4 linked regions of the Homo sapiens genome follow. The protein of the gene in region 2 interacts with the protein of the main gene of each other region in a pairwise test. Each region holds a gene or a part of one and is shown on either strand. Other genes may lie near its edges. The genes, in order: ZNF343, RAD51D, MEOX2 and POLDIP3.

Evidence for each region.
Region 1: the proteins of RAD51D (region 2) and ZNF343 interact in binary tests that used the Homo sapiens proteins (3 or more experiments, as listed by UniProt).
Region 3: the proteins of RAD51D (region 2) and MEOX2 interact in a two-hybrid assay, tested with the Homo sapiens proteins (one large-scale study listed by BioGRID).
Region 4: the proteins of RAD51D (region 2) and POLDIP3 interact in a two-hybrid assay, tested with the Homo sapiens proteins (one large-scale study listed by BioGRID).

The regions. Positions count from the first base shown.
Region 1 is NC_000020.11:2,502,332-2,505,935, reverse strand, and holds part of ZNF343 (zinc finger protein 343), read left to right. Parts: intron 1-3,604. UniProt on the Homo sapiens protein: May be involved in transcriptional regulation.
Region 2 is NC_000017.11:35,099,319-35,102,922, forward strand, and holds part of RAD51D (DNA repair protein RAD51 homolog 4), read right to left. Parts: intron 2,048-3,604; coding exon 1,883-2,047; intron 1,719-1,882; coding exon 1,635-1,718; 3' UTR 1-1,634. UniProt on the Homo sapiens protein: Involved in the homologous recombination repair (HRR) pathway of double-stranded DNA breaks arising during DNA replication or induced by DNA-damaging agents. Bind to single-stranded DNA (ssDNA) and has DNA-dependent ATPase activity.
Region 3 is NC_000007.14:15,676,592-15,680,195, reverse strand, and holds part of MEOX2 (homeobox protein MOX-2), read left to right. Parts: exon of another isoform or gene 1-1,282; intron 1,283-2,548; exon of another isoform or gene 2,549-2,733; intron 2,734-3,604. UniProt on the Homo sapiens protein: Mesodermal transcription factor that plays a key role in somitogenesis and somitogenesis and limb muscle differentiation. Required during limb development for normal appendicular muscle formation and for the normal regulation of myogenic genes.
Region 4 is NC_000022.11:42,601,357-42,604,960, forward strand, and holds part of POLDIP3 (polymerase delta-interacting protein 3), read right to left. Parts: intron 1,805-3,604; coding exon 1,414-1,804; intron 752-1,413; coding exon of another isoform or gene 701-751; coding exon 614-700; intron 1-613. UniProt on the Homo sapiens protein: Is involved in regulation of translation. Is preferentially associated with CBC-bound spliced mRNA-protein complexes during the pioneer round of mRNA translation. Contributes to enhanced translational efficiency of spliced over nonspliced mRNAs.

The sequences.
Region 1 (3,604 bases), on a different chromosome or scaffold from region 2:
CAATTTTGGCTTTTGTTGCCATTGCTTTTGGTGTTTTAGACATGAAGTCCTTGCCCATGCCTATGTCCTGAATGGTATTGTCTAGTTTTTCTTCTAGGGTTTTTATGGTTTTAGGTCTAACATTTAAGTCTTTAATCCATCTTGAATTAATTTTTGTATAAGGTGTAAGGAAGGGATCCAGTTTCAGCTTTCTACATATGGCTAGCCAGTTTTCCCAGCACCATTTATTAAATAGGGAATCCTTTCCCCATTTCTTGTTTTTGTCAGGTTTGTCAAAGATCAGATGGTTGTAGATATGCGGCATTATTTCTGAGGGCTCTGTTTTGTTCCATTGATCTATATCTCTGTTTTGGTACCAGTACCATGCTGTTTTGGTTACTGTAGCCTCGTAGTATAGTTTGAAGTCAGGTAGCGTGATGCCTCCAGCTTTGTTCTTTTTGCTTAGGATTGACTTAGGGCTGTTTTTTGGTTCCATATGAACTTTGAAGTAGTTTTTTCCAATTCAGTGAAGAATGTCATTGGTAGCTTGATGGGGATGGCACTGAATCTATAAATTACCTTGGGCAGTATGGCCATTTTCACAATATTGATTCTTCCTACCCATGAGCATGGAATGTTCTTCCATTTGTTTGTATCCTCTTTCATTGAGCAGTGGTTTGTAGTTCTCCTTGAAGAGGTCCTTCACGTCCCTTGTAAGTTGGATTCCTAGGTATTTTATTCTCTTTGAAGCAATTGTGAATGGGAGTTCACTCATGATTTGGCGCTCTGTTTGTCTGTTATTGGTGTATAAGAATGCTTGTGATTGTTGCACATTGATTTTGTATCCTGAGACTTTGCTGAAGTTGCCTATCAGCTTAAGGAGATTTTGGGCTGAGACAATGGGCTTTTCTAGATATACAAGCTTGTCGTCTGCAAACAGGGACAATTTGACTTCCTCTTTTCCTAACTGAATACCCTTTATTTCCTTCTCCTGCCTGATTGCCCTGTCCAGAACTTCCAACAATTATGTTGAATAGGAGTGGTGAGAGAGGGCATCCCTGTCTTGTGCCAGTTTTCAAAGGGAATGCTTCCAGTTTTTGCCCATTCAGTATGATATTGGCTGTGGGTTTGTCATTGATAGCTCTTATTATTTTGAGATATGTCCCATCAATACCTCATTTATTGAGAGTTTTTAGCATGAAGGGTTGTTGAATTTTGTCAAAGGCCTTTTCTGAATCTATTGAGATAATCATATGGTTTTTGTCGTTGGTTCTGTTTATATGCTGGATTATGTTTATTGATTTGCATATGTTGAACCAGCCTTGCATCCCAGGGATGAAGACCACTTGATCATGGTGGATAAGCTTTTTGATGTGCCGCTGGATTTGGTTTGCCAATATTTTATTGAGGATTTTTGCATCGATGTTCATCAGGGATATTGGGTCTAAAATTTTATGTTGTTGTTGTGTCTCTGCCAGGCTTTGGTATCAGGATGATGCTGGCCTCATAAAATGAGTTAGGGAGGATTCCTTCTTTTTCTATTGCTTGGAATAGTTTCAGAAGGAATGGTACCAGCTCCTCCTTGCACCTCAGGTAGAATTCGGCTGTGAATCCATCTGGTCTTGGACTTTTTTTGGTTGGTAAGCTATTAATTATTGCCTCAATTTCAGAGTCTATTCAGAGATTCAACTTCTTCCTGGTTTAGTCTTGGGAGGGTGTATGTGTCCAGGAATTTATCCATTTCTTCTAGATTTTCTAGTTTATTTGCGTAGAGGTGTTTATAGTATTCTCTGACGGTAGTTTGTATTTCTATGGGATCAGTGGTGATATCCCCTTTATCATTTTTTATTGCGTCTATTTGATTCTTCTCTCTTTTCTTCTTTATTAGTCTTGCTAGCGGTCTATCAATTTTGTTGATCTTTTCAAAAAACCAGCTCCTGGATTCACTGATTTTTTTGAAGGTTTTTTTGTGTCTCTATTTCCGTCAGTTCTGCTCTGATCTTAGTTATTTCTTGCCTTCTGCTAGCTTTTGAATGTGTTTGCTCTTGCTTCTCTAGTTCTTTTAATTGTGATGTTAGGGTGTCAGTTTTAGATTTTTCCTGCTTTCTCTTGTGGGCATTTAGTGCTATAAATTTCCCTCTACACACTGCTTTGAATGTGTCACAGAGATTCTGTTATGTTGTGTCTTTGTTCTCGTTGGTTTCAAAGAACATCTTTATTTCTGCCTTCATTTCATTATGTACCCAGTAGTCACTCAGGAGCAGGTTGTTCAGTTTCCATGTAGTTGAGCGGTTTTGAGTGAGTTTCTTAATCCTGAGTTCTAGTTTGATTGCACTGTGGTCTGAGAGACAGTTTGTTATAATTTCTGTTCTTTTACATTTGCTGAGGAGTGCTTTACTTCCAACTATGTGGTCAATTTTGGAATAAGTGCGGTGTGGTGCTGAGAAGAATGTATATTCTGTTGATTTGGGGTAGAGAGTTCTGTAGATGTCTATTAGGTCTGCTTGGTGCAGAGCTGAGTTCAATTCCTGGATATCCTTGTTAACTTTCTGTCTTGTTGATCTGTCTAATATTGATAGTGGGGTGTTAAAGTCTCCCATTATTATTGTGTGGGAGTCTAAGTCTCTTTCTAGGTCTCTAAGGACTTGCTTTATGAATCTGGGTACTCCTGTGTTGGGTGCATATATATTTAGGATAGTTAGCTCTTTTTGTTGAATTGATCCATTTACCATTATGTAATGGTCTTGTCTCTTTTGATCTTTGTTGGTTTAAAGTCTGTTTTATCAGAGACTAGGATTGCAACACCTATCTTTTTTTGTTTTCCATTTGCTTGGTAGATCTTCCTCCATCCATTTATTTTGAGCCTATGTATGTCACTACATGTGAGATAGGTTTCCTGAATACAGCACACTGATGGGTCTTGACTCTTTATCCAGTTTGCCAGTCTGTGTCTTTTAATTGGAGCATTTAGCCCATTTACATTTAAGGTTAATATGGTTATGTGTTAATTTGATCCTGTCATTATGATGTTAGCTGGTTATTTTGCTCGTTAGTTGATGCAGTTTCTTCCTAGCCTCAATGGTCTTTACAATTTGGCATGTTTTTGAGGTGGCTGGTACCGGTTGTTCCTTTCCATGTTTAGTGCTTCCTTCAGGAGGTCTTTTAGGGCAGGCCTGGTGGTGACCAAATCTCTCAGCATTTGCTTGTCTGTAAATTATTTTATTTCTCCTTCACTTACGAAGCTTAGTTTGGCTGGATATGAAATTCTGGGTTGAAAATTCTTTTCTTTAAGAATGTTGAATATTGGCCCCCACTCTCTTCTGGCTTGTAGAGTTTCTGCCGAGAGATCAGCTGTTAGTCTGATGGGCTTCCCTTTGTGGGTAACCCGACCTTTCTCTCTGGCTGCCCTTAACATTTTTTCCTTCATTTCAACTTTGGTGAATCTGACAATTATGTGTCTTGGAGTTGCTCTTCTCGAGGAGTATCTTTGTGGCGTTCTCTGTATTTCCTGAATTTCAGTGTTGGCCTGCCTTGCTAGGTTGGGGAAGTTCTCCTGGATAATATCCTGCAGAGTGTTTTCCAACTTGGTTCCATTCTCCCCATCACTTTCAGATACACCAATCAG
Region 2 (3,604 bases):
TAAAAACACTTTGACTTCCACAAAAAAGAGTGCTTGTGCCCGATTGGTCATGTCTGCTGTGGGCTGAAGATGCCCAAATAGTACCTTGAGTGGCAAGAATTTGCAATTTCCAGCTTCATGTATTGCATCTTACTGTGGTTGCAGGAATGTGCCAATCACCCATGGTATAAAGATACTGAAGATTAATTTCTCCTGAGGTCTTCTGTGAAAGCAAGCGCTAGGATTCCCCCAGGCTTAGGCTTACCAACCCTGTCCTGAATCCAACACCCTGGTGCCAGTTTGCCACTCCTTCCCAATCCTCCATGATTCTATCCCTGTTGCATTCATCACCTCTAAATGTCATTACTTTCTGAGTGTAACTCGGACCCTCCTTTCCTGCAGCCAAGACATAACTGATTAATTACACAACAGGCTCTCTAACCAAGAAAGATGACCTTCCTTTAAAAGATGTGGCCAGTAACCAATCCTGATCATTTCTGTACTTTTCCTTTTATTTTCCATTCCCTGGTGTCTTCGTCCCCTCCCAGCCAGGGTCATGGCTCTCAGACGGATGGCCACAGTGCTGGTGAAAGACAGAGGGATTATTTCATACACTAGGGCACTAGCTGTGGTACAGCTGGCAGGAAGAGAGGTGTAATTATATTGCATCTTGGAGCCACCAGCAATGAATTTCTGCATAAAGGACTAGATTTGCCATGTATTATTTACGTCAGCATCAATTTTCCCAGCTGGCTCTATTTACTGTGCAAATTCTCCTCTGTCTGTTTATGGGCAAGGCCATGGTTCAGCACCTCTGGTTATGCTGTACTGTGGAGGGGCCCCACAGGGCACCATGCATATTAAATGAGTGGCTGGATTCACCAGGAGCAGGTCATACCCTCCCTTTCTGTTAAATTATATCCCTGGAACTGCAGCGAGCCCACACGTTCTCACCTAGTCATGGTGATGCAGGCAGGTCTGAAACCAAATCAGCAAGAGGAAAGGAGGAATAAACTGTTCTTTGGGCCTCACTGGGGGAAACTGAAAAACAGCCTTCTAAGGGGAAATCAGGTGGCTCTAGGGCTCGGGGAATTGCCTTTTTATATTTTTAAGAGCAAAACAGAGATGAAGAAGAGTATTTCATTTATAAGCTTATTTCCACCCAGTAACTCAGAGACAGAGCTAAGGAAGAGTGGGCCCCCATCTAACAAATGGAAAGGCAGAGACAAAAGAAAAAAAAGGCAGCAGCAGCAAAGGCAAGTTAGAGGCTTTCCCGGCTTGGCCACTGCGCTAGGAGGGAGCACAGGACACAATGGTGATGCACAGGATTATCCATCCAGTCGCCAGCATGCCTCATCAGAGATGCTCCCAGCCAGGGTGAACTTGGTTTCCACCAGAAACATACACGTTAGAAATAAGGGAAGGAAACGTGGCACCAGTATGAATTTCTGGGTCCTCGCAATGCAGCATCCTCTTTCGCCTGTGGTTTATATGCTTACAGAGAGTGAGGCCAAGGAACCCAAGATGTCTCTTCTGGCCAGCCTGAGAACGTCTGTAGTCACCAGTGCCAGGTGGCAGTAAACAGCAGGCGTTACTGGGAAGAAAAGTTGGGAGGGGTCCCCAATGCTTCCCTGTTTCCCAAACAACAGCACAGGTCATGTCTGATCACCCTGTAATGTGGCACTCTGCTCTGAGGTCCCCCAGGTCCCAATGTCTACCATCTCCTGGAAACCTGTTGGCTGGAAGAAGAAGTAAGGAGTCAGTGGAGTTAAGCAACCCAAGTGGGTAGCTTCTTTAGTTGCAAGGTTTCAGCCTCTAAAGAGTTCTTCTCGAAGACATCTGTGGGTATGGAAACCACCCTCCAGGGCCCAAGATTACTGGCATCTTCCTGGGGCTGGCTCACCTGTCGGGAAGATTTGGCCAGACACGCCATGCGCCGGCCGCCTGATGCTCCTGCTCCCTCGATGGTGTCCAGGAGAATCCGAGTGCTGGGCACAAAGCTCCAGGAGCGTCCGAGGGCAGGTTTGAGCCTCCCGCTGTCCCTGTCTCGAGTTATGTGGTTGGTCACCTGCAGCAGAAACAGACTTACAGATCCATAATGCTAGTATAGAGGACATCGATTACTACCGCTTCATTTTACGGAGAGGAAAACAGAGGCCTAGCACAGAGAAATAACTTCCCCAAGGTTACAAAACCTAATGGCAGGTCTGGAACTAGAACCTGGGCCTCCTGACTTGTGCCCCGCTCTTTCCACTAAATCTCGATGCCTCAGGTTTGACCCGAACCAGAAGGCGATGGGGCACATGTCACCATGCTTTCCAGGCTGGTCTCAAACTCTTGAGCTCATGCAGTCCGCCAGCCTCAGCCTCCCAAAGTGCTGGGATTACAAGTGTGGGCCACCACGCCCAGACACTCAGCCTTTAAAAGGAAGGAAAGTCTGACACATGCTACAAGGTGGATGAACCTTCTGGACATTATGCTAAGTGAAATACTCCAGTCACAAAAAGTAAATACCATATGATTCCATGTATATGAGGTTCCTAGAGTAGTCAAAAAGCATAGATACAGAAAGTAGAATGGTGGTTGTCAGGGGCTGGGGAAGGGGAAAATGAGTTATTTTTAATGGGTACAGAGTTTCAGTTTTACAAGGTGAAGAGTTATAGAGATGGATGGTGGTGATGGTTGTACAGCGTTATGAATGTATTTAACACCACCGAACTGTATACCTTAAAGTGGTTAAGATAGTAAATTTTATGTTACATGTATTTTACCACAATAAAAGAAACTGGAAAAAATATATAGCTGCTAAAAATTACATTTCTAAAAAATCTATTTTAAAACATAGGAAATGGACTCAGATGGTATTTTTTATGTTGTTGTTTTGGTTTGTTTGTTTTTGAGATGAGGTTTTGCTCTGTTGCCCAGGCTGGAGTGCAGTGGCATGATCACAGCTCACTGCAGCCTCGATCTCCCAGGCTCAAGCAATTCTCCTGCCACCAAGGCCACCTAGTTTTTGTATTTTTTGTAGAGGTGGGGTTTTGCCATGTTGCCCAGGCTAGTCTCGAACTCCTGGGCTCAAGTGATCCACCAGCCTTGGCTTCTCAAAGTGCTGGGATTACACGCATAAACCAGCGCACCTGGCCTATTTTTTTTTATTTTTTCATGAGGTTAGTTTAGTTAGAAAGCTGGTTAAGTGTGGGCTCACACCTGTAATACCAACACTTTGGGAGGCTGAGGCGGGTGGATTGCTTGAGCCTGGAAGGTCGAGCTGCAGTGAGCTGTGATTGTGCCCCTGCACTCCAGCCTGGGAAACAGAGCGAAACCCTATCTCAAAAGAAAAAAAAAAGAAAGAAAGAAAGTTGGCTAAAAGTATAAGTAAATATGCAGAAAAAGTATTGTATGGAGATATGTAAAAATATTAATATGGTTTCTGTGGATGTGGAGATTGATGACAAATTTGAATCATATTTATTTTCTATCCTTTCTATGAGAAGCATGCAGACTTTAAAAAAACTACCTCATAAGCAGAAAAAGTTACTTCAATAGCAAAAAGATCCATTTATATGAAGCTCTGGAAAAGGCCAAACTATTGGGATGGAAAACAGATCAGTGGTTGCCTGGGCCT
Region 3 (3,604 bases), on a different chromosome or scaffold from region 2:
TCTTGACATTATTTATTACCAAATTAACAGAAAGTTACATGGTAAGTGTATGATCGAATGGGTTATTAATTTTCATGGGTCATGAGTGGGTTTTTAATTTTCCTCTATATTTGAAATTTTTGATATATAATTTCCGGAATAATAAGTAGCTCATTATTCCTGAAGCTTTCATTTATAATGTTACTTTGTGTACAGAAATATAATATTTCTAAATTTATATATGTTACTCACTACTAATTGTGCACTGTATTTTTAAATATTGGTTTTCACAGTGTTATGAAAATAATTTACATTTTTTTGGTTTCTTACATCACCATATGCACAAGAATGATCAGGTAGAATCCGTACTGTATCTATACATTTTTGGAAAGGGTTTGTATGAAAGATAGAAAAACCCTTTCAAAAATAATCCCTTGTTTTATCAATAGAATTAGAAATTAATAAACTGGATCATTAACTTGTATGATAATATTGTTATTTTATTTTTAAAATTTCCATTTATTTAAATGTTTAATAATTCTAAAATGTTTGTGTACCTTGATGACAATTCTTATGTCCTTACAATGTGTACTTTTATTGCAAATATAACATATTTTTACTAGGTAGTAACTCAGTGGTAAAAACTTTAGGGTACTGATTATAGCTCTAAATTCAAAAGCTGTTGCTCTTCAAAATTTTGTAGAATCAATTCAATGTGAATGTTTCAAATGTATTTAAGTATTCTGCTGTTTGTGTTCATAAGCTTTCTTTCTAAGATGTTAGACGTATGTTTCTTAAAGCTTGCATAGGCTACATTGATTAAAATTATGATTATAAGCTGCTTACTTTCATAGTTTTTTGTTTTTATTGTAGTCTAGTAGAGAGGACAATGGCAAGGAAAGGATAAAAGGGAGGGTGCTGAATTAACTAGGACATGGAAGCTATACTTAAAACACACGTTAAAAGAAGGCGTTTACTTTATATATGTATATACATATATAGGTATATGCACACTCACACCCACACATATATATGCATGCATTACTGTAACTCCAAATTTAATTTCCTGATAATAGTAAATCTGAATTAGAGCATCCTTATTAAATGCATAATATGATTATAAATGTTCCAATTACAAAATTAAATATTAAGCTTGAAGCATATATAGTTTTGTGAAGAGTCCAGCAGGCTTAAGCTGGCAATCAATGATAGTTATAAAAGTCCCTGCAGTTTTTGTTTTCTTTTGTTTTTCCTCTTTATTTAGCTCATTATTCTTCACACACTTCAAGAGAATCCCATAATGCTACAAGGAAAAAACAAATTCGCAGTTATCTTACGTGACTGTGGGCAAGAAAATGACTAAGGTGAAATCATCTGTCAGGCTCCGCAAAACCTAGAGGAGGGTCCAGCTTAGGTTGGCAGATGCCAGTAGAATTTTAAAGGCCTAGAATTTTACTCTTTGAAAATATAGCCTTAAATTTTTGCCAGAAATGACACCCAAATGAAAACTTATTTTTGCAAAGTGATAGTTATTTGCAAATGCAGTAGTGAAATATATTCAGAGTCTGTTGAGGTAGCTTGTCCACTGTCTGGACTGCACAGTAAACATTTGGATGGTTATTCTTAGCCACCCAAAAAACTAGCAAACTAAACTGAGGTGTATTCTTATTAGTTGAAAAGATTAAATGGGCATGCCTCTTATCAAATTAACAATGAATGCAAAGCAAATTTTGCAAATCATTGATTTATGTTGGTAGGTAACACAAACAGGAAACTATTCAGAAAAATAAATATGTGTTATCCGAAACGTAATGGGGACTAGCTTGGTTTTGTAGAACAACAGCAATTTAGCAAATAACTTTCACATTTAAAGAACCATATAAATAATGCTTTAGCACTCACTGCATAGGTTGGAATCAAGTGATGTCTTATTTAATATTATTCAAAGATAAAATGAGGTCTTAGTATGTGTAGTGCCTTTAACAATTAAAATTTTCTCACCTATAGGCTATGCTTACGTGGGAATTTCTTTTTCTTATTTGAAGTATAAACAGATCTGGATGCATTAAACTAGACAGAATGTAGATGTAAAAATGATTGAGACATATTAAAATGACAGGAAAGTCAGAGTTTAGGCATCCCTATTTGGAGGCTTGCTGCCACCCATGTTTCTAAGATTACAGTCTTGTGAATGTCCACACTCAAAATTCAGGGAATTATAAATAATTTTTCCTCCAGAACTATTCTTTGCTCCTGGAAGTAGAGCTGTATAATTTATTTTCTAGAATACCCAGATGTTTAGGAAAGTATAAGTAAGTGGCAACACTTTTGCATATTTAGCCATTAGTTGATAAATCATAAAAGATTTATCCTATTTCTTAATTATCATATTAGACAAGGAAATAGATGTCACACTCAAAGGGATAATTGAAGAGAGTTTGATGATGGCAATTTGATGGTGAGTAGAATGTAGGGAAACCACAGGAAATGATGAATCCCCCAGGGTCTGTCCACAGTTGGAATATATTAGCACCCCTAACCTGAGAGGGTAAATGCAGGGACCTCTTACCAGAATCCAATGAGCGCAACAGGACAGAAGCCTTCTGGAAAAGTTGGGACCTCAGATGGAGGATTGCAGCTCATGTCGAATATCATCCAGTAACCTGTCTTCATGTCCTCCAATCTTCTTTTGTTGCTTCCATTGATCAAACACTATCCGAAGCCAGAACCCCGGAGGGTTAGGTGGATGCAACCCTAAGAGTCAACCGAAGAAGAAATGAGGCAAGCATATCTGGGAGAACACAATAGTTAGGGCTAAACCCCCGCTGTGTCTCTTACTATTGTCACCTCTTGGCCACAAATTTAACTTTTCTCTACCATCGTTTCTGAAAAGGAAATTGAGTTAATATACACAAAGCAATTAGAACAATGTCTGGCTTAGTAAAGTGTCAGTTATTATTTTTATCATCTATCAATGAATGTACAATTATGTAATGCATATGCACCATCTGAAAATAATCTATTTTATGCTACCTGTTTGCATTTTATTACAAATACTGCTATAGGAAATGTAACTTGCCTAAGTAATTACTAAAGATTTAAAATAATCATTGTCCTTAGAATTGTAAACGGCATGAAATTTCCCTGAAATGTAAGGTGAATTCTAGCCAAGTTATGTAAGAGGCTCAAGTTGCCTTTCCCACCCTTAAGATTTCCATTCCACAGCCTCTTTTACTTGGACCTCTCCTAACTTCCTCTTCTCTTGGGTCTCCTGCTACTTCTCCATTGAAAAGCTGTTTTCAGGAAGAGTGCATATTGAGCAAAATAAAGAATAAAATGAGGACTCTTTTTTTTTTTTTGAGACCGAGTTTTGTTCTGTTGCCCAGGCTGGAGTGCAGTGGCGCAATCTTGACTCACTGCAACCTCTGCTGTCCGGGTTCAAGTGATTCTCCTGCCTCAGCCTCCTGAGTAGCTGGGACTACAGGCGCCCGCTAATTTTTATATTTTTAGTAGAGACGCGGTTTCACCATGTTGGCCAGGCTGGTCTCGAACTACCTACCTCAAGTGATCTGCCCACCTCGGCCTCTCAAAGTGCTGGGATTACAGGTGTGAGCCACCGCGCCCG
Region 4 (3,604 bases), on a different chromosome or scaffold from region 2:
GAAAAAAAAACAAAACAAAAGACAAAAAAAAAAAAAGCGTAAAAAAATTAAAAAAAACAAACAAAACTTTTTTTAGCCTCTCTGCCCCCTATGCCTCCCTTCCTCTATTAAGAAGTTTCTTCTTGGCTGGGTGTGGTGGCTCACGCCTGTAATCCCAGCACTTTGGGAGGCTGAGGCGGGGGGATCACAAGGTCAAGAAATTGAGACCATCCTAGCCAACATGGTGAAACCCCATCTCTACTAAAAATACAAAAATTAGCTGGGTGTGGTGGTACGCGCCTGTAGTCCCAGATACTCAGGAGGCTGAGGCAGGAGAATCACTTGAACCCGGGAGGCAGAGGTTGCAGTGAGCCGAGATTACGCCACTGCACTCCAGCCTAGCGACAGAGCGAGACTCCGTCTCAAAAAATAAAAAAATAAAAAAAATTTCTTCTTTAAACTCAAATTGCAAAAAGTTCGCTGTAACCCTGCCTCCAATACTACCAACTGGGAACTACCAACTGAGCAAGCCTCAGTCCATCCACCCAAGTAGGCCTCATCAAAACACGTGCACACCTACATGTTCGCTATGTACACACAGATTCTCTCTCTCTCTCTCACTCACTCACTCTACCTGTTTGGCCTGGTGGTTATTGACAACATTGATTCTCATTCCGGCAGGATGGGGATGAAGTGGTGCCATGGCTTTCTGCTGTGGAACCTGGAAACACTCAGTGGTCAGAATCCACCCCACAGGGTCCACATGCATTCTCTAGAAGAAGGGGGTTACTGAACTTGATACATGGTGGGCATGCAGCTTTGGTCTTTGGTAAAAGGCACTACAGAGGGCCTTATCCTCCACAGTAGGAAGTAACAGAAGAATCATCAATCCAGAGACCATGCCGGTAACGCACATGTAGGGCTTAATGGACTTGGCTCAGTAAATGTTTGCTGTGGCCGCTGCTGTTCCTATTACCAAAGCTGCTATGAAGGTTAAATGACATTGTTTCCTTTCCCTCTGTGGTGGCAGCTGTGAAGGGTGGCCAGGGCCTTGGACTAGGGGCCAAATCCCACTGGGCCTGGGGGTGGAGTGAGGACTGTAAGGTCACAGATATTAAGGGCCTGCCACATAGCATGTGCTCAATAAATCTTTTGTCCTTTCCTCTCTCTTTCTTCCACCAGTATCTCACCTGGGAAAGTCACCAAATTTCTATGGGCCTCCTTTTTCTTTTTTTTTAGAACTGAGATAATACCTTTCCTTCCTTGTATAGTTCCTTGGCTATAACGTACTTAAAGCCTCTGTAAGGAGCAAAGTCTGTATTATGCCAACACTTGAGAGGATAGTATTTTTGCCCAGTCACTCCTGGCACCTTGCCTCTAAATCTACCTTTGTTACTAGCTTTCTGGGAATTCATGACAAAAGCCACAACTCACCTGGATGGTTTTGGTGAGCTTCAGAGCAGGGGTCACTGTCCCAATGGGTGGGTTTATGAAGGCAGCAGGGGAACTCCTCTTCAAGCTGATCTTCTCCCGGGCATCAGCAACCTGGCGGGGCTTCTGGGGCACCGTGGTCTGCTGCTTGCGAGAGTTCAACATCTCTCTGGCATCCTGCACTTTCCCTTTGATTCGAAATCGGGCATCTTTCTGCAAAAGCTTCTCCCGGGCATCCTTGACTCCCAGTTTGAGCCGGGCATCTGAGAGGCCAATCTTCTGCCGGGCATCAAATCTCTGCTGGAAGGTGGCTGTGCGTGTTGACTGGCTGAGAAGGCCTTGCTGGATCCCAACTCGAGATCGGACACCTCCAACTCCCGGTCTGGCATTAAGCCTGTAAATATAAATTGCAATCAATATTAAGTGGATCTGGGTATCTACAGCAGTCTATGAAAGCGGAACTGTGGTAACACTGGGGACAGAGGAGGCCCTGGAGAATCAGAAAGCGGCTCCTTGCCTGTGATTGAATAAACGATTATGCCTACATGATGACTCCTTTCCTGGTTTCATGATGGCTTTTAACTTTGCATTTTAAGCAAAATTAAGAGAGAGGGGCTGGCAAGTTTTATTCCTAGTTAAGAGTGTTTTGCTTCCTAGACCACGTGTCTTGAGACACCAACATGGACAATAACTTCCCAACAATGCCAGTCAAATAAAATAAACATCCACCAAATCTAATCCCACTCATCTGAGGAGTAACTTTAGTTTCCAAGGCCCATCCCCATCCATGTTCTCACTCAGCCCTCTCAGCACCCTGAGAAGTACTTACTATGCCCACTTTACAGTGGGAGAAGCAGGTTTGGAGAGGCTCAATGATTAACAAAGAGTGTCTCTAAGGAAGGCAGACACCATCTACTGGGCTAAGACCAAGAGAGCAAACATATGGGTCTGGCTTAGAGCTAGAGGAAAACAGAAAACACAAAGACTTGGTAGGAAAGAAAGAAAAAATTGCAATAGCAAAAATATCAAATACAGAAACCACTGAAATTGGAAATGATCGGGTACAGGGTTCGCTATTTGGGTAATGGGTACACTAGAAACCTAATCCTCACCAGTATGCAATATAATCCATGGAACAAACATGTACATGTACCCCCTGAATTTAAAATAAAATATTTTTTTTAACTGGAAATGAATGAAACTCCATAAACAGGCCCCGGTCTCTTTCTTGGGTTCCTCTGTTGGCCTACAGTGGCTTGAAAGTGAACAGAAGGCCCTCCTGAGTATAGCGCTGGAGATCCTCCCCAAGGTCTTTGGGCTTCTTCTGTCGCCTCCCACCCTCAGGCCTCTCTACAATAGCTACCCTCAACGGCCACTCATGCGGCAGACGCTCTGCCTGCGGACTCCTATGTCAAGGGGTGCTCTTTGGGAAACCCTCCCGGATTTCTCCAGGCCAACTCTCCTCTGTGCCTATTATTATACCTGCTTGTTTCCTTTTTTCTCTCCCTACCCTGGGTGGGGCGGGGGGAGGAGAATGGGGTTCAGTCCTTTTGCAGGGCCCAGCACCTCCTAAGCAGCATCGAGCCCTGGCTGAGTGTCAGAAACTCCTGTGGAGCTTCTTAAATACAGAGCTGTCCAGATCCCACCCTAGATGCTGAATCCAAAATCTGGGGCGAGGCCTGGCCATCTGCATTTTTAACTCCATGGGTGATTCTGGAGAAGAGCCATGTTGAGGATCTCTGACCTGCTGTTAGAGGGTAAACTCTGCTGCATAAACGAGTTCCTGTATTGCCTCCCACTTCACTGCCTGGACCTCCCAGGAGGCATCTCTCATACTGGGTCAGTCACTGGCACTCTCCCACTGCTGCATTCCAGTGGCTGGAGTGAGATTGGCTGTCAGTTCCTCTGCTAATGAATACCAGAAGTGCAGCCAAAGGTGAGTCTACCTGGTACCAATAAAAGCAAACGTGGACCTTCATCTTGTTATCCCTCAAATAATGGAAAAACACCTGCTGCCTCCAATATGCCAGTACCAAACCTAAGGCGGTAATACAGACTGAACATCTGTGTCCCCCCAAAATTCCTCTGTTGAAGCCTAATCTGCAATGTGATGGTGGTAGAAGGTGGTGGCCTTTGGGAAGTGATTAAGTCATGAGGACAGAGACTTCACAAATGGGATTAGTGCCCTTTATAA